Homo sapiens: one gene and its partners. The protein of the gene in region 1 purifies or fractionates together with the protein of each later gene. This does not show direct contact. Each region holds a gene or a part of one and is shown in the gene's direction. Other genes may lie near its edges. The genes, in order: ACBD3, ALG6, CP, PPM1H, TBCD, WDR12 and STEAP3.

Region 1 (4,812 bases):
GTACCAGCTGTGACACATTAAAAGTAGGTCATGGCCGGGTGCAGTGGCTCACGCCTGTGGTGGCTCACATCTGTAATCTCAGCACTTGGGGAGAACGAGGCGGGCAGATCACTTGAGTCCAAGAGTTCAGGACCAGCCTGGGCAACGTGGCAAAACCCCATCTCTACAAAAAAAAAATACAAAAATTAGCCGGATGTGGTTACAGGTCCCTGTAATTCCAGCTACTCAGGAGGCTAAGGTGGGAGGATCATTTGAGCCTGGGAGGCGGAGGTTGCAGTGAGCCAAGAATGTGCCACTGCACTCCAGTCTGGGTGACAGAGTGAGACCCTGTCTCAAAAAAAAAAAAAAAATAGGTCATGTTATTACAATATTTTGAGACTTGGCTGTGGCTCAGGTAGTTGTTAATCACTTATAGGAGTTAGAGGGGAGAAAGGTGAGGTAGCCCAGACAATTCTCGTGGTAGGTTTATGAAATAGTGTCTTATCTGATACTCCTTAGAAATCTTCCCTTTCATCCTGTCTGCAGGCTCCCTGAACACCATACCACTCTCAGACCCGGAAGATGTCCATTCCTAGCACAATAGGATCTGTTCTTTTTGGAAGGGTCTTGTGGGGTGGGTGAAAGCTGGGCAAGGGCTGCCCTGAGAGGTTAACCGTTCTTTTTTAAATTAAAAGCTTTACAAAAAATTTTAATTTCAGAAATAATACACAAATATATGCAATATAAAATTTTCATTTATGGCAGTATATGAAACACAAACTGAAAAAAATCTTTTTTCCCACATTTCTTTTAATTCCACTCTCCTCTGCATAGATAATAACTGATAAATTTAGGGTATGTCCTTCCAGATCTTTTCCTTTGTATTCACCTTTTTTTTTTTCATTAAGCAAGTGTATTACATGTCTTTACATATTAGGCAATGTATTTCTATCCTTTGGCTCTGCGATATTTCAGGGTGGATTTTTTACTTCTGTACACGTTTGTCGAGTGCTTGTTCTTTCCAGCACTGTGCTAAGCCCTGAGGATGTCGTGGTGTGAGATAGGCAGTCTCTTCCCCTATGGAGCATCTAGTTTAATGGGTAATGCAGATCTATTGCTGAATGTATCACACAAATTTAATTATAATGACAGCAGGTATTATGAAGGAAAAGCTTTTAGTGCTGTGAGCATATATTAGAGGGGATCCTTCAGGGTATAGGAATATCATAATGACTTAAGTAGTTTCTTATGATGGACACATTTCTGTTGCTGTGCAACAATAATTATTCTTGATGTGATTTGTATATTGTGCGATTGATTCCCTATAAGTTTCTGCTAGTAAAGTGTATGTATTTTAAATTTTGATGTATATATCCACATTGTTCTCTAAAAAGGTCATGTCAGTTTTCCCTGGGAGCTAAAGTTTTATTTTTAAACAGGATTCAACGTATAGGGTTCATTCTCTATCTTTGCCTTGTAGGAAGGAGGAAGAGGAGCGAAGGCGGCGTGAAGAGGAAGAAAGAGAACGTCTGCAAAAGGAGGAAGAGAAACGTAGGAGAGAAGAAGAGGAAAGGCTTCGACGGGAGGAAGAGGAAAGGAGACGGATAGAAGAAGAAAGGCTTCGGTTGGAGCAGCAAAAGTAAGTTTATTATGTGGCTTATGTTTTAAAATGAGAAATGGAAAAAAAATAGAATAAAAATAAGAAATGAGCGGGCCAGGTGTGGTGGTTCACGCCTGTAATCCCAGCACTTTGGGAGGCGGAGGCGGGCAGATCACCTGAGGTTGGGAGATCACCTGAGGTTGGGAGATGGAGACTATCCTGGCTAACACAGTGAAACCCTGTTTCTATTAAAAATACAAAAAATTAGCTGGGCGCAGTGGCATATGCCTGTAATCCCACCTACTCAGGAGGCTGAGGCAGGAGAATCTCTTGAACCCAGGAGGTGGAGGTTGCAGTGAGCCGAGATCGCGCCATTGCACTCCAGCCTGGGTAATGAGTGAAACTCCGTCTCAAAAAAAAAAAGGAATGTATTAGAAGGTTTGGGGGTTCACTTGCAGAACCCAGAGATTGGAAGCAGGAGCTGAGGTTGCTTGGTTGCGCTCTCTGTTTCTTGTCTCTGCTTCTCTCAGCTTATGTCTCTGCTTCATCCTTGCTCTCTGCAAATTGTCAACTGTCTGCTTTGGCATATGCAAGGCTGTCCGAGGATTTATTTGGTCTATGTTTCCATGCATCTGACAGAGACTGGCTGGAATCTGTGAGACCCAGTTGCAGTTTCCCAGGACAGAGAATCTTGTTGGTCCAGTCTATGTCAGATATCCATTTATAGTCCTTAGTACAAGATTTGGAGGCTTCAACTATTGCTTACTCAGTAAGGGCTTTGAGACTCAGAGACTGACAGGTTCTTCAAGAGGGAGCTGTGGGTACAAGGAGGCAGTGATTAACACCCATAAAACACTGGGAAGTAAGTCTGAGTTTGTAGGGGTGGCATGGCTTGTAGGTTAAACCAGAGAACATGAGAGTCCATTGATTTCTTCTCATTATTTCTGGGTAGTTCCTCAGAAAAAGGTTTAGTGCTAGCCTCAAACTAATCCAGGCCCTCATTCAACTTTGGAGAAAGACTATGAATGCAGCTCTTTTTTGGGGGAGGTTGTCCTAGGTGGATCGAATGTTGTGCTGTATGTAGGAGTTTGTGAGGCTTTGCTTTGTTATCTATTAATAGATGGCTTTGAGGTCTCTGTTAAGTTGGTCACATAAGTAAGTTAAGAAGCATGTGGTTGCTGGCTGTGGTGGCTCATGCCTGTAATCCCAGCACTTTGGGAGGCCGAGGCGGGCGGATCACTTGATTGAGGTCAGGGGTTTGAAACGAGCCTGGCCAACATGGTGAAACCGTCTTTACTAAAAATATAAAGATTAGCCAGGCGTGGTAGCAGGTGCCTGTAATCCCAGCTACTTGGGAGGCTGAGGCAGGAGAATCGCTTGAACCTAGGAAGTGGAGGTTGCAGTGAGCTGAGATCACGCCACTGCACTCCAGCATGGGTGACAGAGTGAAACTCCGTCTCAAAAAAAAAAAAAAGAAGAAGCATGTGGTTTATCTATAAAAGAATATGAGTATCTCTAAACTAAGCATGCCAAGATATTTTCAGTATTTCCTCTATTAAGACAGGCTTTAAATTAAATGCTGTGGACCCTTAATTTTTCACTGGCTTTATTTATACTTACCAGGGCCACCTGTAACATCTTCCAGCTATTCTTCTGCCTCTTACTGTTTTTTATGTATTTAGGTACAGAAGCCATAGCCAACAGTTAAATACCTCATCTATGTCAGAGATGACAATCCATCATCTTAAAGCATCGTGGTAAATTAGTGTAGCTCTAGAGCCAAACTGCCTGGATTTGCATCAGGCTGTAGCATCTGCTAGCAGTATAGTCTTGGGCAAGTTACTGAACCCTCTGTCAGAGGGTTGTTGTGAGGACTAAATGGGTTAGTATGTGTGAGTACTTTCAACACTGCATGGCACATAGTAAGGGCACAATAAATGTTAATAATTATGATGGTGGTCATGATGATGATGATCATATGCTTATCTTCCATCCCGAATTTTCCTGGAAAATCCTAAGTAAAAAATTAGAGGCCAGGCTTATTTTCTTAAATCTTTCTTCTGGACCCAGAACACATACTAATTGGTGTACATTACTAGCTTAGTTGTTTTTAAGAGTTACAGACTGTAAAAGTAAGTAATAAGGACATTTTATTTTGTCATGAACAATCTCCTGTAGCCAGACTAGTATATATATTTTTAATGTTTTTAGGCAGCAGATAATGGCAGCTTTAAACTCCCAGACTGCCGTGCAGTTCCAGCAGTATGCAGCCCAACAGTATCCAGGGAACTACGAACAGCAGCAAATTCTCATCCGCCAGTTGCAGGAGCAACACTATCAGCAGTACATGCAGCAGTTGTATCAAGTCCAGCTTGCACAGCAACAGGTACGATAGACAACCCTAGAATTCAGCCTTAGAGAGAGTTTTTAGTTTCATTGGAACCCAAGTTCTTTTTTAACAGTCGCAAATGAATTTTGCATTAGTTAGCCTCTAAGGTGTAAAGTAACTTTTGGGTGATCTTTTAGGCAGACTTGAGAATTGCACAGGCAATTGTGAGAGAAAATATGTGTTATCGAAGCAACCGATGATGTTATATTGTCATAAGGGTATTTGGGAGTTGTATGGGTTGAGTGTCTTTACTGTGAGTCTGGCATAGACCCTAATAGTGGTCCTGGAACATGAGGACCTGAGTAACTAGCCATAGTTCAGAGATGTCCTTCAGGCAGTGCATTGTCAGAGGCTTGGACAGCCTCCAGTGGGAGGACTCCCCTGCCCTAAGACCATGGGCTGGTTCTGCAGAGCTAGATTGGGTCCATTTGACTTTGTGTTAGGCACCATAGTTAGGCAGTGCTCATAACAGCACATTGCTATTCCTCCTCCAACTGCCTGCCCCCAAGTATTTTGCTTCCACATAGGAGAGGTTGGTTTAGGTGAAAGAACATGGGACTGGGAGTCTCATAACACTTGGATTCTCTTTGGGCTTTGACATTACCTTGTTTGATCTCAGACAAGTTATTACTGCTCTGATTGTTCTGCTCTTTCTTTCAGTCCGTAACAATAGGATATAAAATCAAAGCACCTGTCCTGTTAACCTCACAGGACTATCAGAGGAGTCAAATGAGAAAAGAGTTACCCTGTGAACGATTTTTGTACTTGTAGAAGACACTAATTTTACATTCATTTTTTACATCTTGTGCAGGCATAAAATACCTCCTTAAACTTAACGTAGCTT
Region 2 (4,026 bases), about 160 Mb from region 1:
AGTAGATGGAAAACTCTTTGAGGCCAGAGGACCTCATTTTCTTTCATGTGCCTTCGTGTGCTTTACTCATTGAAAGCATTTAGCGAATATGAAATGTAATTTTCCATTTGCCATGGAAAACTTTTTCACAGATGGGTTCTCAAGGTTAGCTTAGAATTTTAAAAATTGATACAGAATAGATGTATATATTTTGGGGGTATATGTGATAATTTGATTCATTTATTCATTCATGTAATGCATGAAGATCAAATCGGGGTAACTGGGCTATTTATTACCTTAAAAATATGTCTTTATGCTAGGAACATTCAACTTATTATTTTCTAGCTATTTTAAAATGTACATTAATGTTAACTATATTCAGCCTACTGACCTGCCAAACACTAGGTTTTATTTCTTCTAGCTACCTATACATTTGTACCCATTAGCTTAGAATTTTATATCCTGTTGGACCCCAGGGGATGTTATAAATTTAACCCTGACTAGCATTAATATTTGTCCCAGATACCTTTGTTCAGTGCCTTGGTGGTAGGAAGTATAAGAAGACAGGGGTCCTCAGGTTTTGGCTACACATGGGAATCACTTGGAGAGCTTTAAAAAGTACTGAGGCCTGATTTAATTGGTCTGGGGTGTGATGTGGGCATTGAGATTTTAAAAACTCCTCATATGATTCTAATAGGAAGTCAAAGTTGAGATACACCAGAATAAATTAGACCCTCAACCCTCACCTTTAATTCTGCTCATTTAATAGCTACAAGTCAATGTTTCCAGCACATTTAAATTTCACCTTTTATACTACTCAGTAATCCTTTTTTTCCTTGCAGTTTCTTATCTCAGTCATCACTATGGTGCTTCTGACGTTGATGACTGTCACACTGGATCCTCCTCAGAAACTACCGGACTTGTTTTCTGTATTGGTGTGTTTTGTATCTTGCTTGAACTTCCTGTTCTTCTTGGTATACTTTAACATTATTATTATGTGGGATTCCAAAAGTGGAAGAAATCAGAAGAAAATCAGCTAGCTGTATTCCTAAACAAATTGTTTCCTAAACAAATGTGAAAATGTGAACAGTGCTGAAAGGTTTTGTGAACTTTTTGCTATGTATAAATGAAATTACCATTTTGAGAACCATGGAACCACAGGAAAGGAAATGGTGAAAAGTCATTGTTGTCTACACAAAATAAATGTATATGGAGACCAAAGACCAATGGAGGCTTGTCTAAGTACTGCTTGGCCAAAACATGTGGTTTTATTATTCACAGCTATTCAAGTGGGGAAAAAAGAGAAACATGTCCTTAATCCCATTGTTTACTCAGGAAATGCACTTTTTAAATGTCTTTAAAAAACTGAGAAATATTTCTTGATATTTGCTTTGTCTAAACCTACTTCCTTCATCAGACCATATAGTGAGCTTCATGGGAGAATTGAGCCCCTTCTTTTTAATGGAAATCACTAATTTTGGTATTCAAACTTACATTTTAGAATGCAAGTAGTGTGTATTTCACTGTTTAGAAGTCATATCTTAGGGAATTAAATTTGTGATAATCTTTTTAATTACTGAGAAGGCAATTTAAACTGCTTGAAGTTTGAATATGCCTTATTACACATGCAAATTTGATTGTTTTAACAAGGCAAATAAACCATAATCTTATTTATTTCCAAGAATGCATATTTTAATACAATTAAAAATGAATTTTCCTGAATTTAAATGTAAGCTTTAACTTAACTTTAAGTGGTTTGAGTGAAGTCTTCTAAATTACACATAATCACTGGTTCTAAACTTCCAGAACCATTCTGTTTAATTAAACATTATATTATATATATATTATTATTGACATGGTTCAGGGTTACCACTGCCAGAGCATTGATTCATGTTAACTTCATCCTATTAATACTGTATCACCCTGTATTAGCAGAAGCCAATATTTATTATAGTATTCAACTGGTAAAAATAATACATGATATCCATGTTGCAGTTTCTCATATAAAGATATGTTTTCTTTAGCCTCTGTAATAAAGATAATCATTTTCCCATCAACATTTTTTAAGGAATATATTTCTTCTTTCATAAGATAGCCATTAAACTATATTAAGTGGTGGTATATTTTAATATAGTGCAAATCAAACCACATACAAAAAAAAACTGGTTCTAGACACGGACAGTCACAGGCTGATATAAGAAGGTATGTGTTTCTAAGTCTGGTAAAGGAAGTGGGTTTAGACAAAGCAAAAATCTAGAAAGGTTTCTTTCTCAAAGCAAATGTGCATAAAGACTCAAAGGGCAGGTCAACGCAGAATAGCAGCCTTGAATCACTGCCGAATCAGCAAGAACATTGCTGTCCATGGTCACCATCTGTAATCACTGTGCCCAAATGTCAGCATCTTGGCTGGCTGGTGTAGCTTTATTTTTAAAAATATTTTTTGTAATAGTACACTTGTGTTTAACATAGAATGTTGACTTAGATAAATGATGAGGAAGTTATAAATAATTGGAGTAGCATAACTTTATTATTTGGAAATAAAAGTATTATGTACATATATTAGTAAAATGAAATGCACCTGATTCAAGGTATCATCTAGGTAAATTCTGTAAGGTACCATATAGGTAAATTCTTAAATCATTTTTCAGATGATTTAATCTAATCATACTGAGTTGCACTATAGTTTTTATAGAGACTTGTAGCAGTTATCTTATAAGTATCCCTCGTATCTATTAAAAACCGGTTTAAGAGTTTATATTGAACTTAGAGGGATTAGGTTCCAAAATACCAAAACAAAATACCAGAAACAGAGGCCAGGCACAGCGGTCTGTATTTGAGAGGCTGACACAGGATGATCGCTTGAGACCAGTGAGACACCATCTCAAAAAAAAGCAAAATATCAAAAATATCCAGTGATGAATTATCACAGAAGTAGGCAAGGTCCAAAGCATTTCTCTTAGCTAAACTCAGGGCTATAGGGATGTTTTCATATAAATACATATAGGTTATGCAAAAATATTAAAGATAGATTCCTCACTTTCTTCATTAATATACCTGTCAAAAAATAAGCCCTTCAAAGTTATGTTCAAGTACGTTTTAGATGGAGGAGGTATTTCTGAGAAATGCAGTTTTCTCAGCTGCCAAAAAACTTAGGTTTGCTTCTTAAAATGAAGAGAATAGGGTGTATGTTCATGTATCATATATGAGGCATACAGAAGTCATTTTCCCTTGAGGACTTAGTGGGGGCGAAAAATCCCCAATGTAGCATTCTGTCCAAATGATAAACCACAACAAATTGAGTGAAACATTTACAAAAGTCAGGGCAGCCAAAGGAACCTCTCTGTTCAACAGAGAGAAAGAGATGGATAGGATATAACTAAATAATGGTTAAAGTAACGCAATGGTTTCAAGTCTCAATTGGTCTCTCTTCTGTTATGTTCATTGGAAGATCAGGGCAAGTATATCCCCTGCAACTCCCCCTCCCCTCATATAAACATTAGTTGTGTGTGTGGATCTTTCTGCTTTGTCCTTCATGTGGCCTCCAAGGGTGATAAAGTGAGAGTCATCTGATCTACAATGAAAAGAACTGGGAAATGATTCTCAGCAGACCCAGCTGTTCTAAAAGGCAAAAGCTTAGTATATCAAGAGGTCAAACATACAGTAACTGGTTTAATAGCATTAAGCACATACCTATATAACTTGAATTATATATGAAACCAATCTACTTCTTAACTCTGTATTACCTGACTAACATAGATTACTTTATAAAATGTTTTGGCTTATAACCTAAGGTTAGTTTTCAATGCTATAATAATCCTTTTTTAGTATATTTTTGGTAACATCCTATTATAAGCACTGTATCAGAATAAATTTCTTAAACAGTATGAAGAACATAATTAATGAAGGTAATTTATATAATTTATAGTAACAGTTTTTAAAAACCTTTCATTTTAAAAAGGTGAATCTAAAATTTCTCTAAGTGGAAAGTGAATTATTTTCTTTTTTTCTGAGATAGGTGTCTTGCTGTGTTGCCCAGTCTGGTCTTAA
Region 3 (4,812 bases), on another chromosome or scaffold:
TATCTTCTTCTGAGCCCTCCAAACTATTCCAGCCTCTGCCTGCTACCCAATTCCAAAGTCACTTTCACATTTTTGGGTACCTTTACAGTAGTGCCCCACTCCAGGTACCAATTTACTGTATTAGTCTGTTCTTACACTGCTAATAAAGACATACTCAAGACTGGGTAATTTATAAAGAAAAAGAGGTTTAATGAACTTACAGTTCCACATGGCTGGGAAGGCCTCACAATCATGGCAGAAGGCAAAGGAGGAGCAAAGGCACGTCTTACATGGCAGCAGCCAAGAAAGAGCTTGTGCAGGGGAACTCTCATTTATAAAACCATCAGATCTCATGAGACTTATTCACTACCATGAGAACAATATGGGGGAAACCACATCCATGATTCAGTTACCTCCACCTGGCCCCCTCCCTTGACATGTGGGGATTATTACAATTCAAGGTGAGATTTGGGTGGGGACACAGCCAAACCATATCAGTTACTTAAAAAGTATACTTAATAGAGATACTTAAGGCTCCTTAAAAGGAAAAATGGAGCATCTTCTAGTTGCAAAGTCCACCTCTCTTTTTGTTATTGTCCTGTGACTTTAACATCTCCTCTGGCTTCAACAATATGCTACAGTTTTGCAAACTCTAGGTGGGACTGCTTTCTCTGTGATTTTTTTCCCCCATATATCTTACCAGTGAATTTTGAATACAGCTTCAGCAATTTTGCCAATACTATGCTAAACTTTTTGCATAGATGTGTGCAGATAGCAACCTTTTGGTCCCTTCTTTGTCCCAGATTTGCAGCATGTTTAGCCCAGTCAGTGAAGGATGATGGAGTATCACAAGACATGGTTGGCACTTCTTATCGTATGATGACTAAAAAGGAGTGGAAATAAATGGGCTGAAGAATAAGATGTGAAAGAGTGTAATATGAATTTTAGGTAAAGAATCGAGTTTAAGCTGAATGTTGATCTTGAAGGTCTGGGATGATGAACAGGAAAATATGCATTGAGAGTACTAGTATATGCATATGCAAGTACTAGTGCTTGGTCACTAGTACCTAGAATATAGGAGACACTAAATAAATATTTCTGAATAAGTTTAAATGAGTAAATAAAAGATACATAGGAAGATAGGAAAAATCATAGACTGTATTGTAAAAACTTTTCCTTGCTCCTCATGTGGAGAGATTCATGCTATAGAACAAATCAGGTAACAGAATAAGATAGAAAAGTCACCTGAGGGGATTATATGCAGGGTTAGTGCAACTGAAAACACTGGCAGATATTAAAAGAGAAAAATGTATAGGTTTTGGGGGGGACTAAAAAAATAAAGTTTACTTCTCTGGTATTAATGCCAATAATATTTATTTCTAAAAGAGTGAAGTGGAAAATAATTTCCTTATACTCAGTACTGCTATTTACTTGGGTCAGTGCCTTATCTGTCACTTCAACACATCAGTAAGTAGTTAAAGACTTTATAAGAGATAATTCCTGATCCTAAGTTATATATATTCAAATTAAAATAAATGACATACATATAAAAACAATTAGTAAACACAATAGTGTGTTCTGGGTCCATAGTAGGCATTAGTTAATTATTTACTGAATTAATTGACTATATAATAGCAAAAATTATAGTAATTCTCTTATCTTCAGATTACTTTTTTTTCTGATGACCTCTAGGAAGCTGGAAATAAGTGAAAATTTTTTTAAGTATACGAACGGCCATCACAAAACTCTTTTATACTTGACTTCATAGGCTCTCACTCAGGCTTGGCAACTTTCTTAACATACAGTTCTTACAAACATTATTACCGGGTTTTTCATTCCATTAGAGGTTTCCAAAACAAATGGTACAGTGAAGATGTCACTATAAGCAGGCCTAATGACCAAGAAGAAATAACAGCTCAAATCCTGACCAAAAAACTAGACAACAAAGAACATTCCACCTTACGGTAATCATAATTACTATAATTATGATCTTGAGTGATCAGGATATAATAAGTATTCAATAAGTGTTCATTTCACTATTGTTATCAAAAAAGTTACTTTTTTTCCATTATATCCGCTGTTTAGGAAAACAGGGAAGCAAATAAAATATTTTTAAAGAAAAAGCTTGCACTAATGACATTCATTTTACCCCTATTAAAAGATAAACTTGGGCATATTGAAAGTTTAACAAGTTTATTCAAGCATTCAGCCACAGCAATTGGGTGCCCTAAGACCACAAGCAGTTCTGTCAATGCTCCTCTGGGCAGGGAGGAAACTTTTATAACGTATTCTCAGACTAAGAAATAGATATTAGACTGGTTAAAGTGGAGACTCCCTAGTTAGATGTTAGTTGGCGGCTTCTGATTGGTAAAGTCTCTAGTTACAGATTCGAAGTTTCATTTTACTGTTTACTACATTGAATTGGGTTTTGGTTTGCTTACGTAGGAACCCAAGGCGCTGATGTTGTCTCAGCCTAGTGGCCTCCCAAGTTATATAGCATCCCTTCAAAAATGATTTTTAAATTTTTAAATGATTCTTAAATAGGTACAATTACTAGCTAAAATTTTCTGGAAAATTTACTTTAAATGACTCATTCTCCAAGGTTGCCAAATAAAAAATAGCAAGCAATAGGGCTGGGCGTGGTGGCTCACACCTGTAATCCCAGCACTTTGGGAGGCCAAGGCAGGTGGATCACAAGGTCAGGAGTTTGAGACCAGCCTGGCCAACATGGTGAAATCCCGTCTCTACTAAAAATACAAAAATTAGCTAGGTGTGGTGGCGTGCGCCTGTAGTCCCAGCTACTCAGGAGGCCAAGGCAGGAGAGTTGCTTGAACCCAGGAGGTGGAGGTTGCAGTGAGCCGAGATCACGCCGTTACATTATAGCCTGGGCGACAGAGCAAGATTCCATCTCAAAAAAAAAAAAAAAAAAGCAAGCAATAGCTAGTGCAGTACACTTCCAAACACTTCACACAAGACAGCTTGTATGGAAGAGCTAATTAAGTGACTAACATTTCACACTGACCAAATTCCATTTATTATCAAGTTCCTATTTCTCCTGAGAACACAGACAAAAGAAAATTCACTAGGTACTGCATTCATGCTGCGCCAGTGGAGGAAGGCTGGTTAGAACCGGCAAATCACTTGAATTTGTGTTATATATACCTAGGTTGAGTCTCTGCCATATTCTTGCAGCAGTTAATTTTTGACTGTTTTCCTTATGATTCTTGTTTATGGTAGGCAGCATTTCCAAAGTGGCTCCCAGAAGAAATCCTATCCTAAATCTCCAGAACCTGTGAACAGGATGAGACATCACTCTCATGATTTATGTTTTAGTCAGTGAGATTATCTGAAGAGTCCACACACTGAAGCTGACTTGAAGATGAAAGGGGCCACCTAGGAGGGCATACGGGTGACCTTAAGAAACTGGGAGAGGCTCTCGGCCCATAGCCAGCAAGCAAACAAGGATTTTAATTCTATGACCCCACTGAACTGAATTCTGGCAATAACCCAAATGAGCTAGGCAGATTTCTCCACAGAGCCTCAGATAAGTACTCAGCTCAGCAGCCCCTTGATTTCAGCTTGGTGATGCCTGAGGCAGTGAACCCAGCCACACCATGCCAGACTCTGACCCATAGAATAGTGAGATTATAAATGGGTGTTGTTTTAACCTACTTTGTGATAATTTGTTATGCAGCAATAAAAAATATATGTCTCAATTAATGAAGTCAAAAATCCAGAAACTTTTCACCTATAATACCCAAGTTTTGGGAACCACGTCTAAGCATAAACCAAGATCACTTGAGTGAATTCTAAATTTATGGGAGGGAATAGCATTATTAATATCTTACCAAAGCAATACTAAAAAATAGTTATGCTACTATTAAAAACTCATTTCTGGGTCTAAGACTACCAGAAATTATAGGAGCGGGCTTTTCTTTTTTTAAATAAGGGGCTAAAAAGAGAGAATGTGATTGATTACTTGAAGGGAGATATGTCTACAGTAATGAGTAGAAAGGAACATACTACAGTTGTCAACAGGAAGAACTACAATTAAATGTGAATTATTTGGTTGAAAGAACAGCTATAATAGATTCTTGTGGCTGAATATCTAACTGGCAAACTTCCTGCAAGCTTCCAGTAACTGGCCCTTTGTCCTCAAGCTGTGCTGTCGAAATTAAATAGAGAGCCCCTAATGACCTTTTAATGTTTATTTGGAGACAAAGCATAAACAAATAGACTTCTCCCAAAGTGTCACACAGTGTAAAATATTTTCCAGTTTGGTTAAGACAGTTTTTTTCACAATAAAAGGCAAGATGCAAAAAGCAGTTTGCATATTGCAATGTGTATAAAAGGAATTTCAGATGTTAAAACGCCTAGATATGTTATACCTTCAGATCAATAATTTTAAAAGCAATTTTAACCCCCCCAAAAAACTTTGCCTAGAAAAATTAGTTACAAAGCCTAGGCAATATAGGTCTTGGTCTTGGTCTTAGGTATTTGTTTATGGCAATGCTCTTCCTATTTTAGGAAATGATTAATACAGGAGCATTTCAATGCAATAAAATCATTTTGACAAAGCCTGCTATAGTTTATCAAAATAGGACATGATGTATGCCAAAGTGTATTTACATTCAGAAAATATAAAGAAACATTTTATTTAAATGAAGCCTTAAGAATTTGAGGGCTAACTTTTAACTTTGGCCTATGTAAGATGTGTACCAATAGGACATGGTAAAGCATGGAGTAAAGTCTCCAAATATTATCAAATCAATCTCTCAGAAATAAAAGTGTGTTCAGACTCTTAAGAAAATTTACCCTGGGGCTTAGACAAGT
Region 4 (4,812 bases), on another chromosome or scaffold:
GATGGGGGTCCTTGTGACTGCCAAACGCCTGAGATCTGTCCCCACTCCAGTGAGTTTCCCAGGGCGAGGGCGCCTGTCAAGGCGAGAAGGAAAAGCAGGCAATGGTGAGAAAGTTATGAGAGGTAGGAAAGAAGATACTGAAACACTGAAGGTGGAAGCCGTTTGGACACAGTAAAAGGAAAGCCTCAGATAAGCATGAGGGAAAGGAAAGAACGAATTTCAGAGTGTTTGCATGCCTATGGTAGGCACAGGATGCAATGAGACACGCATGAGAGAGTGCTTAGAGGGCTCCCCCCATCCTCTCTGGGCCTCCATTTCCGCATCCCTAAAAAGTTAATTTTTTTTTCCTAGAATAAAACATGAGAGATATTCAACTTGAAGCCTAGGAAGGCCACTGTAAAATGTTACAAATTTTAAAGTTAGTGGCAAAAATAATACATGTGTGATAATTCAAGCAAAGACCTATTTAAAAAAAAAAAAAAAAAGTCAGCCCCTCTTCCCCAGCCCTCACCTACTCCCTAGGAGTAATGAGGGTTCAATGTTTGGGTGATATTTGGCTTTCAGACTTCTTTGGATGCCCTCATAAATACATATCATGCGTTTCTTTTTTCTTCTCAAAATAGACTCATACTAAGCATATTATTCTGTAGCATTTTCACAAAACACTATGTCATTAACAGTATTCATAAGTAAACACAGAATTACCTCATTCTTCTTAAATATATACTATTGGTAATGGCTAACATAGTTAATGCTTACTCTTTAGTGCTTATACTGTTTTATATCATCTGATTTTCATAAAAGCCTAATGAGGTAGGCACTATCATTTCCATATTATAGTTGAGAATACAGAAGCACTGAGTGATTAAGCAACTTGCCCAGGGTCAAGCCTGTGTGTGAACCCAGGCAGTCTGACTCCAGAGCTCGCAACACCAAACTCGTTCTCTACAGTAGATTAAATTATGATGTATTCATCTGTACCCAGGAATAGCCACTAAAGTCTTGGCCATCTCTCTCTTCTCACCTTTAACCCTGTCAGATAATATACTGTACCGCTTCCTTATATCTTGAACTGTTAGTTTATCTTCCTGCAAAAATGCATCCTGAATGATCAAAATGGCTGAAATAGGGAAGGAAAGAGAAAGACAAGTAGGGACTGTGGCTGTGATCAGAAGCTGCCACCAGTAATGCTGCCCTTTCCTACAGGATTTACTGGGAGAAGAAATTCTGTTCTCTTTGTACTAGAAGGTACCTGAGAGGGGTTGAATAGGTAGGAAGATTGCTCAAATTGTGGTGATAAGAACTGTACTAAGGAGCTAATGCCTGAATCAGAAGTGATCTGTTTACCTCTCTAGAAAGTGAGTCACGTTCCAAGCCTTCCTTGGGAGGAAAAATTGACATCTTTTGGTCAATGAGTTAATGTTGATGACTGACCCTTTGAGATGGTAGAAAAATTAAGGAGAAATGGTCTAATCTTTTGCCACTTACTGTTAATCCCTTTCAAGAAGAGAGACTCTATAGGCTATAGAACTAGAGAATTAGCCGTAAGCAATCCCTGCTAGACTTGAGGTTGCAGAAACTGAAGATTTTCGTTCATTTCAGTATTCATTGGCATTGTCCTAGATGGAATTTCCCAGCTCTTGAAAAGCTTCCTATTACAGCTGAAAAGTTTAGCCACTTGGCTAAGGGGTATTTGCAAGGTTGTAAAGCTCTGTAAAGCATTGTAGTTATAGATAACATCTACTAAGCTAAAATCTTTCTAAAAACATGCATTAGCAAGTTTTAAGTTTGGCTTTGAAATCAGTGGCTGAGCCTGTTTGGTTTGCTCATTTGATAAAGCCCTTGGGGAGCAACAGTCTGACCCAGAGACCAGGCGGCAGCTACTTCCTTTCTCTCAAATACCACCCAAGTGGAGGTTGGTTCATTTTTATAATGGGTTGGGAACCCATTTTGGCTTTTTTTCTTTTTTTACCTGTTTGCCCGATTTTTATCCTGTTGATGAAACAGTTGGTCTTAGAGATGCCAGCAGGCATGGAATTTGTGCCTGAAACTACAGACGTAGGGAATGCCAAAGAATGTGTTGTGGTTTTGAGCAACAATATTGTGTATGTTAATGCATCATATTCAGGTTTTTATCAGTGATACATTTGTTTACTTGTACAGAAAGAATACATTAAGTATAGCTAATTTTACTTCGGTTATAGCTATAACTATAAATTTTTTTTCCTATTTCTTATAAAAGTACCCCTGGACATAAGTAGAAACAAAAGCTACTTTGAGAGTGTCTGTTAAATGTATATCATATAAGTGTATGTCTCACAGAGTTGAAAATTATGAAATTTTTGATGGAATAACCTTATTTAAATCCAGCCAGCTGCCTACAGGTATTTGGATTTGTTTTGGACTCTGCAGGCTGTCTGTCTCCTTGGTCATTGGCACTAATTGCTTATTACCAATAAATGGCATTAGTTGGCTGGGTGGTGGTGAAGACACAAAAACCGCTATTTCTTTCTTGCCCCAAAGCTCGGAAATCCCCTGGCCTTTCTTTTTCCCTTCTAACTTTTCCTGGCATACCTGCCCCTCTTACTGACTGATACCTCTTTGCAGAACTCCTGCTTGGAAACTTCCTGTTTGACTTTTGCAACTGAAGAAACTTGAGGTTCTCTACTCTTATGTAAGGATAAAAAGGAGTGGGTGAGGGTATCTGCAGATGAGTTACAAGTCCAGAGTAGCCTGAGCTATTTCAGCTACCTTTCTGGTGACTTGCAAAAGGTATTAATTTCCTATTTTAAAGCAGACAGCTAAGCGTTCCTTCATATTTCAGATATAGCATTATAAAGAAATCATCCCCCTTAGGTGGAGCTCCTGGGGATGTCTCTTTTCTTAGGAAAATGCATCAGCTTCTTTCAAGGACTGGTGATGCTTCAGGCAAAGGGTTTAACCATGCAGGGGGGTGTTTACTATATGTTTCAGTCCCAGTTTAGGTAGACATCCGCATCTCTGCTATGACCCCACTATACAGTGCTTTCAATTAAGGTTACAGCAGTACTAGTTGAAAATGTAAAACTGCATACTGGAATTGTTGTCTAAAAATACATTAATGTTCAAGAGTTATTTTTAATTCTCAATGTTTGGTAGAAATAAACTCTGGTGCCTTTATAGTTCTGTGATTTGCCTAATTTAAAGGGAGGATTAGTTAGCTTGTCCCCTTGAATTTTTGCTATCATTTTTCAGGAAATAATCATTCATCTGCTTCCATTATTTCTCTCAATTGATGAAATCATTGCACTCCTACTATGTGTCCAGCATTGGTCCCATGCTGGATTCATAATATAATAAGACATAGTCATTATCCTCAAGAAAATTTTATAGCATAATCTTTCCCCTTTTGTACTTTCTTTGAAATTAAATTAAAATGAAATAGACTATTAAGGTTCAAAGGGACCAGCACCAGGAGTTTTGTTTTGATTTTAATGTCTTAATGCTTCTGGGTAATTTTAAATCTCAGTATTTGGAGCCTTTAAGTCACATTAGGGAAGCAAACTTGTTTTTTCCAACCAGCTTATGATTAGCTTTGTACCTGAAGGCCCAAGACCTTCCCTGCTGTTAGAGAAAAAAAATTATTCTGACACTTGTTACAATGCTGGGGAAGACTTTACTCAAGTCTGTTGCAATATAGGAAAACAACCCAGCTCAATACCACGTTGACAGCTGGTACTTGTAGGCAAAGAGTAGAGTGTGAGGGGTCAGTGGAATGGAAAGTTACTCAGCGGGGACATTAAACCAAACTCAACTGACCTAGCAGGATTCTTGCTGAAAGCAGACCAAAGACTTGTAACATCAAAGGTGGGGAATGAGGAACTTGAGCAGGTATCAAGTTTGGGGGATTCTTGCTAACCTGACTTAACAGGATTCTTGCTTAAGGAACAGGATTGGCGCCAACGTTGTGACTTAGTAGAGAAGAGAGGCCTGACTCAAGTTTGGTGGAGGAGAGAATCTTTGTCATCCTTGCAGATGGGGGAGAAGGGGGAGAGAGTAGGTGGGACTGCAGTTATTTAACTGTGATTTTCATTCTGACTTATCTGCATTACTTCTGTGACCCTCCATAATTGACTGTGTTTCCTACTGACCATGTAAGGAGAGCAGATGCCCTTAATTATGGTGCAAAAGATGCAGGATTGAACCTAATTATACAACATAATGTTATGGCAAAGAGTTGAGGAGCCTTTCCCAAGTTGTTTTTTTAGATAAGTGGTTTTCACTAGCTTTCCAGTTTGGTACTACAGTAGATACTTTGCAAATTATTAGCTTAAGAACGGTATAGCATTTGATTTGTTTGGCCCATCTCCCATATACCATATAGTGATAGGATTATCCCTATTTATACTTTATTAGAGGCATTAAAAATTGCTAAATGCAATAGTCATTTGTTGAGCTAGTCCTGTGTGTAGGTTCTCTATTAAGCACTTTATGTATAAGGATTTAATGAGATGAATGCAACGTAGGTAAGTTATTTGTTCAAAGTAACAAAGCTTTTTAAGTGGCAGATCTTGGATTCATATCCAGTTCTGTGGAACGCCTACCTTTGGTGGTTTTTCACTGTGTCTAATGAAATACTTAAAACATTTTTAACCATGAGATACTCATTATAGGAAATTCAGATAATATAGACTAGTAAAAGATATGAAGAACAGAGTGAAAAATGTTTGTTAATTCATTAGCCACTGTTAGTATTTTAGATTTGGTCTCTCAGATTTTTTATATAGGTATTTTTTTAAAAAAAATAAAAGCTGATCATATGTTTACATGTCT
Region 5 (4,812 bases), on another chromosome or scaffold:
TGTGTGTGTCCCCGGCCACCTGCCCTCCCCTCCCGTCCTGGGGGTTACAGGTGGACTTTGGACTCACAGAGCTGTAACGCTGATCTCATTGCATAGATAAGAAACCATGGGCCCGGCGCAGTGGCGGGTGGATCACTTGAGGTCAGGAGTTCGAGGCCAGCCTGGCCAACATGGTGAAACCCCATCTCTACTAAAAATACAAAAATTAGCGGGGCGAGGTGGCGCGTGCCTGTAATCCCAGCTACTCAAGAGGCTGAGGCAGGAGAATTGCTTGAACTTGGGAGGCGAAGGTTGCAGTGAACCGAGATCACGCCATTGCACTCCAGCCTGGGTGACAAGAGCAAGACCCTGCCTCAAAAACAAAAACAAAAACAAAAACAAAAAAAACCATGGTTACCAACGTTGACTAGGTTTTGATATTGAGGATGAAGAATGGAAGTACATTTAGGTGTCTTGTAATTCTCTGACTTCCTCCATGCTTAGCATTTCTTTTTCCTTAGCATCTTCAATTTTCTTATTTTTTTTTTCTTAAGGAACTTGAACATTCTGTAGGATCCAAGTACCGTTCTACTAATTGAATTTGAATGCATCATGATCAGTGCCTCAAAATTTTATTTCAAAAGTCCATGATTAATTCACACTGGCCATGATGCTGGTGCACTTTGCCCCTGGGATTGGCACAGGTGGTGACTCGTGGAATGCAGCACCCTGTAGACGACGCACCTCCTCTGCTCATGGCCCCCACCTGCCCCGCCCCCAGTGCCTCTCCAAGGCTGCTCTGTTGGCCTCGGCTCCTGGGCTTCGGGGGAGCGGTGGAAAGAACACGTGGGTTTGGTGTTTGCCACTTGCTGGCTGTGTGGTCACGAGAGGCTCCTCCGTAGGTGGCAGAGGTGGGGGTTCGAGGAGACAGTGGCACTGAGCCCCGCACGCGGCGGGACTGGTGACTCTCTGCCCGCTCCTGCTCTGTGCAGCAATTGCCGTCCCTCCCACCACGGTTCCTGGTGGCCTTGGGATGGGTTCCCGGGGGTCTCCTGCTGTCCGGCCCCAACTCCTGTTCCCAGTGCGCCCCCGGAGCCCTGTCTCTCTAAATGAGGCTGACGTGGCTTGGCCTGAAGGCCCTGCCCCGTTACTCTGGGTGCATAGTGTATGCCTTTTTCTTCATAACTATTTCTGGGAAAGAAAAATATGCTCCATTTTATTATTGTTCCATATTAGAAGACAGACATTGTGGAAGGAATAATCAGGTTATCCATTCAGTTTCTTAGTTGTAGTGGTAGTAAAGTGATGCGTGTATCTGACAGATGATGGTGAGCAGGCGTGCTGGAAAGGAGTAGCATGACTTAGGGGTTCTTTTGGTTTGGTTCGAAAGTCATTGCTGTGCCGAGATCTCAGGGTGACCCGCTGTGTCCCTGGTCAGGTCCTTCTCTGACCTCAAGGGTGACCTGCTGTGTCCTTGGCCGGGTGCTTCTCCAACCTCAGGGCGACCCGCTGGGTCCCTGGTCAGGCAGGGGCTGCTCTGACCTCAGGGTGACCACGGTGTCCCTGGTCAGGTGCTTCTCCGACTTCAGAGTGACCTGCTCTGTCCCTGGCCGGGGGCTTCTCCGAGCAGAGCTGCTGTGCGCTCACCGTGCTGCCTTTGTTTTAGGATGCAGCAGTCTCGGCCCTGGCTGCTCTATGCAGTGAATATTACATGAAGGAGCCGGGGGAGGCAGATCCCGCAATTCAGGGTGAGTGGGGAGCCCTTTTCTTGAAGACTCCAGGGGCTTCCAGCAGGAAGCTGCTGGGGAGTGTCTGGGCACGGAGGAGGCCTCGGTTGTGCAGTGGAGCAGAGCCACCACGATCATGGCTGGAGTGGGACTGTTCGGGTCTCAGGTTCCCAGCCGAGGAGCTGTGGGCAGGTCCTGCAGCTGCCCAGGATGTTGCATCAGCTCTGAACAGGTGGCTCAGCAGGGACGCGTCTCTGTTGACGGCACCCTCTTGCTCCATCACCCAGGCTGGAGTGGTGTGGCGTGATTCGGCTCACTGCAACCTCTGCCTCCTGAGTTCAAGCAATTCTTGTGCCTCAGCCTCCTGAGTAGGTGGGACTACAGGTGCCTGCCACCATACCCGGCTAATTTTTGTATTTTTAGTAGAGACGGGGTTTTACTGCATTGGCCAGGCTGGAATCGAACTCCTGACCTCAGGTGATCCACCTGCCTCAGCCTCCCAAAGTTCTGGGATTACAGGTGTGAGCCACTGCACTCGGTCAGTGTTTTTAGAATTTTTGTATGCACCGTGACATTTTTCTGCTGTGTGTTTCACTCGTTAATACATTTTGCTGTTTTTTCCTTCTTTATGAAAGTAGCATTAGGCTGGCTTTACGCCGTGTCCCGTGCGTAGCTGCTGTGCCGCCTCACTGTACATCCTGCACCCCCGTGCTGAAGTTCAGGCTTGCTTCTCGCACATCATGTTCGAGGGATCTGCTTCATGAATCGTACTTTTATTTTTAAAGTGTCACATGCACATATGTTGGCCCACAGTGTTCCTTTATGTCATATGATAGAACATGCATTATTAATCACGTCAAAAGTGTGTGAATCACCACTTAAAATTATTATAAGTATATAAAAATCATGCATTAGCTTGGCATGGTGGCACACACCTGTAATCCCAGCTACTTGGGAGGCTGAGTGTGGGGTTGAGGCTGCAGCGAGCTAAGCTTGCACCACGGCACTCCAGCCTGGGTGACAGAATGAGACTCTCTCAAAAAAAAAATTCTCTTTCTGATTCCTATTTTGAGGTAGGCCACTTTGGAAACGTGTCTGCTTTGGGAACCTCAGGCGGCTCCTCCTTTGTTCACTGTGGCTTTGCTCCTGTTTGGGGCACACGTCGGGTGTGGCTGTACACGATGGGCAGCAGAGGGCCTCTCTTCACACTCGTTGCTTCCTTTCAGAGGAGCTGATCACGCAGTACCTGGCTGAGCTTCGGAACCCCGAGGAGATGACTCGCTGTGGCTTCTCGTTGGCCTTGGGCGCCCTTCCAGGCTTCCTTCTGAAAGGCCGGCTCCAGCAGGTGAGGCTGGCCACGCGCAGTGGACGGGGCCTAGGGCGAGGGTGTGGGAGCCTCGTGTGTTGGGGCATGAGGTAGGCCCAGCCGTTAATAAACCCATCAGTGCTTGTAGCTGGGAGGGGGTTCCTGGAAACCGGCACCTGTGGCCAGGAGGAAGGGGGCAGAGGGCACCCAAGGTCTGTGGCCCCTTAGGGCCCTGGCGAACCCTTTGCTGTCAGAGGACAGACTTGAAAAAGCTGAATTCTGGGAGGGAGGAGAAGGTGTTGTTTGTAGAAGCAGCTGCCGAGAGTGAGGAGAACACAGTTGCCTTTGTGCGTTGTGGAGCCGGGTCCTGTTTTGGTTGCGGCCGTGCATCCTGCATCCAGGTCGGGGCAGAGGTGGTTCCACGTCCTCCCAGAGGTCAGCCCCACGCTGGCCTCAGTGACCTGCTCTCTCACGCTTTCCTGTGGTGCTGGTCCCACTGACCAACCTGCCGGGAACTCCTGCTTGTCTCCCCTCCGGCCACCTGGCGTCTGAAGCTGGAATAGGCCCTGGCCACTGGGTTCCCCACGCCCTTCCCTCCCCATGGGATCCAGCCTTGGCACTTCAGGATCTGCAGCTCCAGACGGACTCCTGCCTGTGTGGCGGGTGGGCCTCGCAGCCGCCATGCCATCTAAAACTCGCATGTGGGGGTTTATCCAGTTGAAACACAGATAAATGTGAAACAGGATCACTTGGAGATATGACAGATGAGGTTGTCGGGACCCAGCAGCTTCCTTTGTCAATACCCCAGGTCTCAGCGTAGGACAAAAGGGGGGGACCTCAGGTAGGGTGTGGCCAGACCCCCAGTGACACCCTGGGGTGGGGGCTGGCCGTGGAGAGGCTGGAGGTGACCTCTCCCCGGGTGTCCTTCCTGGGTTGTACTGGGGGCCGTGGAGAGGCTGGAGGTGACCTCTCCCCGGGTGTCCTTCCTGGGTTGTACTGGGGGCCGTGGAGAGGCTGGAGGTGACCTCTCCCCGGGTGTCCTTCCTGGGTTGTACTGGGGGCCGTGGAGAGGCTGGAGGTGACCTCTCCCCGGGTGTCCTTCCTGGGTTGTACCGGGGGCCGTGGAGAGGCTGGAGGTGACTCCTCCCCGGGTGTCCTTCCTGGGTTGTACTGGGGGCCGTGGAGAGGCTGGAGGTGACCTCTCCCCGGGTGTCCTTCCTGGGTTGTACCAGGGGCCATGGATGGCCGTGAGGAAGGTGGTGCCAGGAGCTGCCTATCTCATGGTGTGGGGTCTGTGGCTCCGGGCCAACATTGCCACCTCCCTAAAGAGTGCACTTTGTTATAGCTTATGGTTCTTCTGTGATTCTTTATTGCTTTCCAGGTTCTCACAGGTTTAAGAGCAGTTACCCACACTTCCCCCGAGGACGTAAGTTTTGCTGAGTCCAGGAGAGACGGCTTGAAGGCCATTGCGAGGTGAGTCCCAACAGTTCCTCCCTAAAGTCGTAAGTCTCTGAAAGGCCAGCAGATGAACGCTAAGGGGGATGTTTTTGCTCAGAGGCAGGACTTATGATTCTTCACTTCCTAGGTTTCCTCTCTTCCAGAGGATCGTCAGTCCCAGCTGCTGGAGGCTCTTTCATTCTCTTGCTGTCATAGTCGTAGTGAATGTTAAACTTCTTTAGGGACACTGGGCCCCTTGGAGAATTGGAGAATGTGTCCTGGCCCAAGGTTGGCAAAGAGGAGCTGACCCTGCCAGCCAGTGTTTGGAATGATCTCTGCACTCGTTGACAGACACGCACCTGG
Region 6 (4,769 bases), on another chromosome or scaffold:
AGCTCCAGTTACCATTTCTTAAAGTATATTTTAATGCCAAATAGTGAATAAAGGTGGCCAGAAAATTCATGCACAGAATCCTTCTTTTTCTCATTTTGTGCTGATTGGTATAAATTTTATTGTATTTGTAGTCTCTGGAAATCTTCTAACTTTGAGAGGACAAAGATGAATTCCTAGTCCTGTTTTGGATGGTCTTCAAATGATCCTTAAGGGCAGTTATTTAAAATGTCTTTCTTAACTCACCCAACCTAGGCTGACCGAATGTAGTCTGTATAAACTAGATGGTTAAAGATAAAGAAGCCTATATATCAGATGCATAGACAAAGAATAAAATGGCATCCAGAACTGGTCCCCACCTATTCCCAATCCTGGTTCCACAGCAGAATACATTCATAGTTCAGGCATTCTTCCTTGAGATAGATATAATGTAAGTGACCAAGTCTCTTGGACAAGTATTGTCTCTGATCAATCCCTGCCAAACTCCTTTCCTTGGTTAACTCAAGTGGTTAGATCTTACTCCCTGAACAGAAGGAATATGAGAGGTCAATACATGCCTAGACTATTCAGTCCTCTGATATTGCTCCACACCCTTTCCCTCAAAAGCCATGAGACCTTTCAATGGTCCCAGTTCCTCTACCAGAACACCAGAGATGCCTGCTTTACATGGACTTATATATTCCCAAGAATCACTTGGATAAATGAGTGGTGCTGCTTTCCCGTGGTTGGGGAAAAGCTAGGAACCTGACAATGCAGTGCTCAGAACCTGCTGACCGGTACTAGTTATGCTGTCTTGCCATAGTAGTGCAGTTCTTTAAAATGTTGATACTTGCTCTCTTATCAAAGGTTGGTTTTTTTGTTTTTTTGTCAAGACAGGGTCTCACTATGTCACCCATACTGGAGTACAATGGTGTAATCTTGGCTTACTGCAACCTCCACCTTCTGGGCTCAAGCTGGCCTCTCACCTCAGCCTTCCAAGTAGCTGGGACCACACCCAGTCAATTTTTTATTTTTTATTTTTTAATTTATTTTTATTATTACTTTTTTTGTAGAGAGAGGGTTTCGCCATGTAGCCCATGCTGGTCTTGAACTCCTGGGCTCAAGCTGTCTGCCCACCTGGACCTCCCAAAGTGCTGAGATTACAGGCATGAGCCACCGCACCCAGCCCAAATAAAGTTTTAAGAAATTACTTGGCCAGGCATAGTGGGGCCTTTGTAGAAAAACATAGCTTTTCTATGAGAAGATGATCAATATTTTCTTTTCCTTTGAATTTGGAATTACCATTTTGGAACTGTTGTCAACAATGCATAATAATATATCAGAATGCTTCCTAGTATATTATTGGAGAAAGAACAAACAAAAGTTTAAATTGATATAAAATGCATATAATGGAACAAGCAACCCTGCAAAAAAAAAAATATATATATATATATACCATCTGGGAATTTCTGATAATAACATTGAAATCTGTTCACACAGTCTAAAATTCTTTTGATGTATCGTAGTTTTGAAAAAAAGGTAACAGTTTACTATATATAACAAATATAAGGAAAATATTAAATTTTTTGAAAGATACTAGTTTTTATTTTTGTTCATTTTTTAGAGACAGGGTCTCACTATGTTGCCCAAGCTAGAGTGCAGCGGCCCGATTATAGCTCACTGCAGCCTCTAACTCCCGGACTCAAGGGATCCTCCCACCTCATCCTCCTAACTAGGACCACAGGCGCATGTCACCACATCTGGCTGATTTTAAAATTTTTTTGTGGAGACAGTCTTGCTGTGTTGCCCAGGCTGGTTATGAACTCTTGGCCTCAGGCAGTCCTCATGCCTCAGCCTCCCTAAGTGCTCGGATTATAGGCATGCCACTGTGCCTGGCCAAAAATACAGATTTTTTAATAGATATTACTATGGCTCCTATTCTTAAAGGAAAAAATATGACATTTTAAGACTATATGCAAGGGATATTCCAATAATATCTTTTTTATTTAAAAAGCCACTAATTAGAATCAGATTTCATTAGGCAAGTGAAATCCAGATTTTACTAGCCAGAAACTGCCAGGTGTAGAAACAGCAAGAACATTTTAGTCACTTCATTGTTGACATTTTTGACTATCATAGATTAAGTATCAAACACAATAACAGTATTTTGTTATATGAACCAAATATATCTCTTTTTACGAGACATAGTCTAGCTCTGCCATCCAGGCTCAACTCCTGGGTTCAAGGGATCCTCCTGCCCCAGCTTCCTGAGTACGTACCTGGGAGTACAATTGCATGCTGCCACACCCAGCTATTTTTTTTATTTTTGTGGAGATGGCGTCTTGCTATGTTGCCCAGGCTGGACTCCAACTCCTGACCTCAAGCAATCATCTCACCTTGGCCTCAAAAGTGCTAAGATTACAGGCATGAGCCACTGCATCCAGCCTGAACCAAATATATCTTTATTATAACTTAGGAGAGAAACGTTTTTGGCTGGTTAGTTTTACAGAATTAAACCTAATGGTTGTTCTAATAGCAGTTCCAATGATTTGCAGATTTGAGGAAGTAAATTATTTTCTTACAGTGTCCATAAAAGTAACAATGAAACTATATCCTACCATAATAATCCTCTATAGGTAATAAATTATTTGCATTTTATAGGAGAGAAAAATATATGTTAAAGTTTTTGAACAGTCACACAGGCAGGAAATAAATGGCAGTGAATTTGAACTTGGACTTATCTTGGACAAGCTCTTAACTGGTATATATTTTGTCAATCTTATGTCGTGCACAAGAATGATGTTTTTATAAATGGAAAGAATGAGTGTGGAAGTGTCTTCACTTGCCTAACAGAAAGGTTATATGTGGCTGGGCGCCGTGGCTAACGCCTGTAATCCCAACATTTTGGGAGGCTGAGGTGGGCATATCATCTGAGGTCGGGAGTTCAAGAATAGCCTGACCAACATGGAGAAACCCCGTCTCTACTAAAAATACAAAATTAGCCAGTCATAGTGGCACATGCCTGTAATCCCAGCTACTTGGAAGGCTGAGGCAGAAGAATTGCTTGAACCCAGGAGGTGGAGGTTGTGGTGAGCCAAGATCGCGCCATTGCACTCCATCCTGGGCAACAAGAGCGAAACTCCGTCTCAAAAAAAAAAAAAAAAAAAGTAATACATAAATTTAAGTGACATTTGTGGGTACTAAATTACAATAATATGTTCAGCTTTGCATTTTTTTGCCTTTAAAATTAATTTCAATTTTAGCGTGCCACTAAACGTATTACTGTAATAGTATATAAATGTATAAAGATCAATTTCTGTATATTCTAATAGGAATTGTATATAAGCAAAAATGAATTTTAGAAATTATCCTATTATTCATGTAATTATGTCATTCATGTTATTTAAAGGAAACCACAATGCAGACAGGTTAAGTACCTAGTGTGAAGGTATGTAACCAATTAATGGAGCTGTGCGACATACATCTGAGTAATAAAGACTACAGAGAAAGTATCTTGTTAGGTACTATCTGATACAAAGTTTAGAAACATGTCAAACAATTCTATGTATAGTTGGTGAAAGTGTAATAACATGGCTGAGACTTAATACCAGATGAAGTTCAGTGGTTTCAGGGGGAGGAAATAATTTTTAAAACGATGTCGATAACACTTCACATTTAAAATCATCATAATAATTCTAATTCTAGAATTGTGTCTAATTCTAATACTGTTTCTAGCTTTGCTTGAATAAACAGAAATGTAGTAGGGAAGAGACAGAATGTTTAGCTTGCAGTATCTAATTACTCATTTGGGTATCTGGGAAGATAGCTCTCCATGGCCCCACTGTCACTGACCTATAATGCTTCTCCTGACGTCTTCGGTAAAATCCAACAGATTACAAAGAAACTGGAATGCCTTGAAGAAATAGAGCTTTTTGTGTGATGTCAGATTCAATAGACCTCTAATCCTTAGTAAAACAGTACAAAACAGTAGAATAATTTTTAGTGTTTTCTAATATCAACTGAGGTTTTATTTGGGAGATTAACCAGAGGTTTGCACAAAAACAAAAGTGAAGACCATTAGTCTTTAAAGAAACTAAGACTCTAGGTTTGGATCCCATTTGTGGAGCCCTACATTCCAAGTCATCTAATGTTCTTGTCTAGTTAGCTTGTAAAAGTCTATACAATGGAGGAAAACCCCTTTTTTCCCCTTAGTATAAGTGTATTATATGTTGATAGAAAGGATAGAAAGTTAAATAACAGTTCAGTAAATGTACTTCTAAATGAAATTTAAAAGTACTTTAAAGGTGTTAAATTATTTCACTTTCTAAAGAGGTTTTATGCAACACTAAAATGTAATGACTGAGCTGCCTCCTTTTGTTAAGAGACTAGTGCAAGTAGAGTCTTGCTCTGTCGCCCAGGCTGGAGTTTAGTGGCACAATCCCGGCTTGCAACTTCTGCCTCCTGGGTTCAAGTGATTGTCGTGCCTCAGCCTCCCAAGTAGCTGGGATTACAGGTGCACGCCACCACATGGGGCTAATTTTTGAATTTTTAGTAGAAACAGGGTTTCACCATGTTGGCCAGGCTGTTCTCAAACTCCTGACCACAAGTGCTCCGCTTGCCTCAGTCTCCCAAAGTGCTGGGATTATAGGCTTGAACTACCACGCTCTTCCTAGTGCAAGCCATTTAAACATTGTATCCAACAGCTAAAGAAAGAATTCATTCCACAGGCATTTATGAAATATGAGAGACTTGACTCCTGTCCAGGAGAAGCATCAGCAGCTAGCTCTACATTA
Region 7 (3,471 bases), on another chromosome or scaffold:
GGTCAGTGCTGGGGACTTTTTTAACCACAGTCTTCCACACTAAGAGATTAGAATTTAGAAAAGTTGGGGTGGCTCAGAAGTTGCAGGGGATTTGGAATTCTTGACAGACACTTCTGGAAGTGGCAAGGATTTGCTTATGTGCAACTGACAGTCAAGGAGTCTTCTCTTTGGGAGGTGACCACATTAAAATGATAGGAATTCACTGTGGGTGACAGCATAAAGCCAATCGTGGCTTCCTCACTCTTCGTGGTGAGCCAGAAGTTGTTAAAGACTGGGCCAAGAAGATTCCAAAAATGGACACAAAGCCAAGAAGAACCAGAGAGGGTGAGGAAGGATAGAGAAGGTTTTATTTGGTTATTTTACTTGGGCCCAAGAATGTTGAACGTGAGAACCTGTCTGTGAAATTGTAGTGTGCAGCCATTGGAAAATGTTTATTATTATCTTTAGCAAAAGCTTTACAAGCAATTCTCCCACACCATGTTCTTTCACTCACTGACGTTCACTGTCCTGGTGTCTGTCCTGGAGCAGGAAATGAAGGGACACACACACACACACACCAGGGAGGAGCAAGAACGGGGCCCAATGTGGAATCAGACCCACTTAGAAACACTTCTGAGGGGAGTGCAAATGAGAAGCGTCTGTCAGCCGAGGCTCTGGATTGATGCCAACAAGCTGGGCTAGAAGGGAATCCAGGAGGCTCAGTCCATGCAGACCACCCAGAGGTCTCAGTGTGCCGCCACACTTAAATTACACCCTCGCAATGTCTCCTTGGAGAAAATGCATATGTGTTCATTGCTTGATGGGTCATCGCTATTTCCATCCCTGTGTAATAGACGTGGGAGGTCTCTCCCAAAGCTCTCAGTGGCTCACCAGTGCTAGCAGAATTCAGTCAGAGCACCCCTGTGCCACGACTCCCTCGCTCTCGGTGCCCTCTGCTGTGTCACTTGCCTGCCCTGTCTAGGGGACTAGATGGAGGCTACTGCAACTACTCAGCGCTTCCCCCTCTGACTTTAGCTTTGGAAATTACTTATCTCCCACTGAAGTTGATTAAGTCGCCTGCCCAGGGTTCATATCAGTTGAACCAGCACCAACAGTAGAACCTGCATCTCTTCCTTCGTGGTCCACGAGAACTCGTACATGCCAAGAGGCTGGAGTCATAGAGCAGCACTTCCCAGCCATTTTCACATTGCATCTCTTACAGAAAGTCATGCTTTGGGTGGTGGATCAGCCACTCTCGGCTGGAAGTGACCCACAAAAGCCCACACATTGTTCAAGGGGTGTGAAGCTCCATTGTAAAATGGCCGGGACCATTTCCATTTAGAGTTGGGATGGTCTCTTCTCCCAACGGTCACTAATCTCCTCCAGATGGAAGAGTAGGCCCAGCGGGGTTTCCACCCGGGTTGTTTATAACCCAGTGTGGGGTGGGAGGTGAAGGTCTAGCATGCACAGAGGGCATCTGTGTGGTGTTCTGGGGCTTTCTATACGGTGCCAGGTCACCCAGACCACAGGCCCCGTGAGTCCCCTTCGCTACTGGTGCCAAATCCACGTGCCATCTGTAAATTATTTACTCTGCATTTATCTTCAAGCTAATTTAAAATCAATCCACTTTTTGTCTGATCTTAACTTAGGCCAAATGTTATCTGTGAAATTATGATTTTGGTATGCAAGCAGACACTTGTTACTCTAATATACATTAAAATACACACATAACTAGTAAAATTTATACACACACACACACACACACATATACATGTATATGTATATATATATTTAGAGACAGGGTCTTGCTCTGTTACCCAGGCTGGAGTGCAGTAGTGCAGTGGCACAATCTTGGCTCACTGCAACCTTGACCTCTTGGGCTCAAGTGATCCTCCCATCTCAGCCTCCCAAGTAGCTGGGACAACAAGCACATGCTGCCACAGCCTGGCTAATTTTTTTGTATTTTTTGTAGAAACAGGGTCTCACTATGTTGCCCAGGGTGGTCTTGAACCCCTGGGCTCAAGCAGTCCACCCACTTAGGCCTCCCAAAGTGTTGGGATTACAGGCGAGAGCCACCGCAGCAGGCCTTAAATGTTTTTTAAACTTCTTTGAACTTAATTCCATCTGAAATCATCCAGCAGCCTCCAGAGATAACAAATAACAAAGTTAAGGAAAAAGCATGGTCATATAGTTATTGTATGGAATCCGTGTGAATTGGTGGGTCCTTAGACACCTTCAGCATAGAAGCATTATTCCCATTTTCCTGTTGTGGAAGCTGAGGCACAGAGAGTTGAGAGTTATCATAAGATCACACTAAGAGAGTGACAGGACTGGGGTTCCAACCCATAGCGGTGAGTACTAAAGCCACCCTCCTTCCCCTCCGCCAGGCCAGCAGATGAGTCGTTGGCAGGATCACTGCATCTGTCATCCCCTCGCCCTCACTCCAGCCTTTTTTTCCCTCCACAGTCCTCACTGGGCTTTGTGGCCCTCGTGCTGAGCACACTGCACACGCTCACCTACGGCTGGACCCGCGCCTTCGAGGAGAGCCGCTACAAGTTCTACCTGCCTCCCACCTTCACGCTCACGCTGCTGGTGCCCTGCGTCGTCATCCTGGCCAAAGCCCTGTTTCTCCTGCCCTGCATCAGCCGCAGACTCGCCAGGATCCGGAGAGGCTGGGAGAGGGAGAGCACCATCAAGTTCACGCTGCCCACAGACCACGCCCTGGCCGAGAAGACGAGCCACGTATGAGGTGCCTGCCCTGGGCTCTGGACCCCGGGCACACGAGGGACGGTGCCCTGAGCCCGTTAGGTTTTCTTTTCTTGGTGGTGCAAAGTGGTATAACTGTGTGCAAATAGGAGGTTTGAGGTCCAAATTCCTGGGACTCAAATGTATGCAGTACTATTCAGAATGATATACACACATATGTGTATATGTATTTACATATATTCCACATATATAACAGGATTTGCAATTATACATAGCTAGCTAAAAAGTTGGGTCTCTGAGATTTCAACTTGTAGATTTAAAAACAAGTGCCGTACGTTAAGAGAAGAGCAGATCATGCTATTGTGACATTTGCAGAGATATACACACACTTTTTGTACAGAAGAGGCTTGTGCTGTGGTGGGTTCGATTTATCCCTGCCCACCCCACCCCCACAACTTCCCTTTTGCTACTTCCCCAAGGCTCTTGCAGAGCTAGGGCTCTGAAGGGGAGGGAAGGCAACGGCTCTGCCCAGAGCCATCCCTGGAGCATGTGAGCAGCGGCTGGTCTCTTCCCTCCACCTGGGGCAGCAGCAGGAGGCCTGGGGAGGAGGAAAATCAGGCAGTCGGCCTGGAGTCTGTGCCTGGTCCTTTGCCCGGTGGTGGGAGGATGGAGGGATTGGGCTGAAGCTGCTCCACCTCATCCTTGCTGAGTGGGGGAGACATTTTCCCTGAAAGTCAGAAGTCACCATAGAGCCTGCAAATGGATCCTCCTGTGAGAGTGACGTCA

Evidence for each region.
Region 2: the proteins of ACBD3 (region 1) and ALG6 purify together in Homo sapiens (pull-down; one large-scale study listed by IntAct). This does not show direct contact.
Region 3: the proteins of ACBD3 (region 1) and CP fractionate together in Homo sapiens (co-fractionation; one large-scale study listed by BioGRID). This does not show direct contact.
Region 4: the proteins of ACBD3 (region 1) and PPM1H purify together in Homo sapiens (pull-down; one large-scale study listed by IntAct). This does not show direct contact.
Region 5: the proteins of ACBD3 (region 1) and TBCD fractionate together in Homo sapiens (co-fractionation; one large-scale study listed by BioGRID). This does not show direct contact.
Region 6: the proteins of ACBD3 (region 1) and WDR12 fractionate together in Homo sapiens (co-fractionation; one large-scale study listed by BioGRID). This does not show direct contact.
Region 7: the proteins of ACBD3 (region 1) and STEAP3 purify together in Homo sapiens (pull-down; one large-scale study listed by IntAct). This does not show direct contact.

The regions. Positions count from the first base shown.
Region 1 is NC_000001.11:226,158,337-226,163,148, reverse strand, and holds part of ACBD3 (Golgi resident protein GCP60), read left to right. Parts: intron 1-1,459; coding exon 1,460-1,618; intron 1,619-3,790; coding exon 3,791-3,965; intron 3,966-4,812. UniProt on the Homo sapiens protein: Involved in the maintenance of Golgi structure by interacting with giantin, affecting protein transport between the endoplasmic reticulum and Golgi. Involved in hormone-induced steroid biosynthesis in testicular Leydig cells.
Region 2 is NC_000001.11:63,436,002-63,440,027, forward strand, and holds the end of ALG6 (dolichyl pyrophosphate Man9GlcNAc2 alpha-1,3-glucosyltransferase), read left to right. Parts: intron 1-821; coding exon 822-1,019; 3' UTR 1,020-2,552; downstream 2,553-4,026.
Region 3 is NC_000003.12:149,214,997-149,219,808, reverse strand, and holds part of CP (ceruloplasmin precursor), read left to right. Parts: intron 1-4,812. UniProt on the Homo sapiens protein: Multifunctional blue, copper-binding (6-7 atoms per molecule) glycoprotein. It has ferroxidase activity oxidizing Fe(2+) to Fe(3+) without releasing radical oxygen species. It is involved in iron transport across the cell membrane.
Region 4 is NC_000012.12:62,927,756-62,932,567, reverse strand, and holds part of PPM1H (protein phosphatase 1H), read left to right. Parts: intron 1-4,812. UniProt on the Homo sapiens protein: Dephosphorylates CDKN1B at 'Thr-187', thus removing a signal for proteasomal degradation.
Region 5 is NC_000017.11:82,922,007-82,926,818, forward strand, and holds part of TBCD (tubulin-specific chaperone D), read left to right. Parts: intron 1-1,645; coding exon 1,646-1,727; intron 1,728-2,932; coding exon 2,933-3,051; intron 3,052-4,393; coding exon 4,394-4,485; intron 4,486-4,812.
Region 6 is NC_000002.12:202,873,761-202,878,529, reverse strand, and holds the end of WDR12 (ribosome biogenesis protein WDR12), read left to right. Parts: 3' UTR 1-4,269; downstream 4,270-4,769.
Region 7 is NC_000002.12:119,260,612-119,264,082, forward strand, and holds part of STEAP3 (metalloreductase STEAP3), read left to right. Parts: intron 1-2,445; coding exon 2,446-2,727; 3' UTR 2,728-3,471.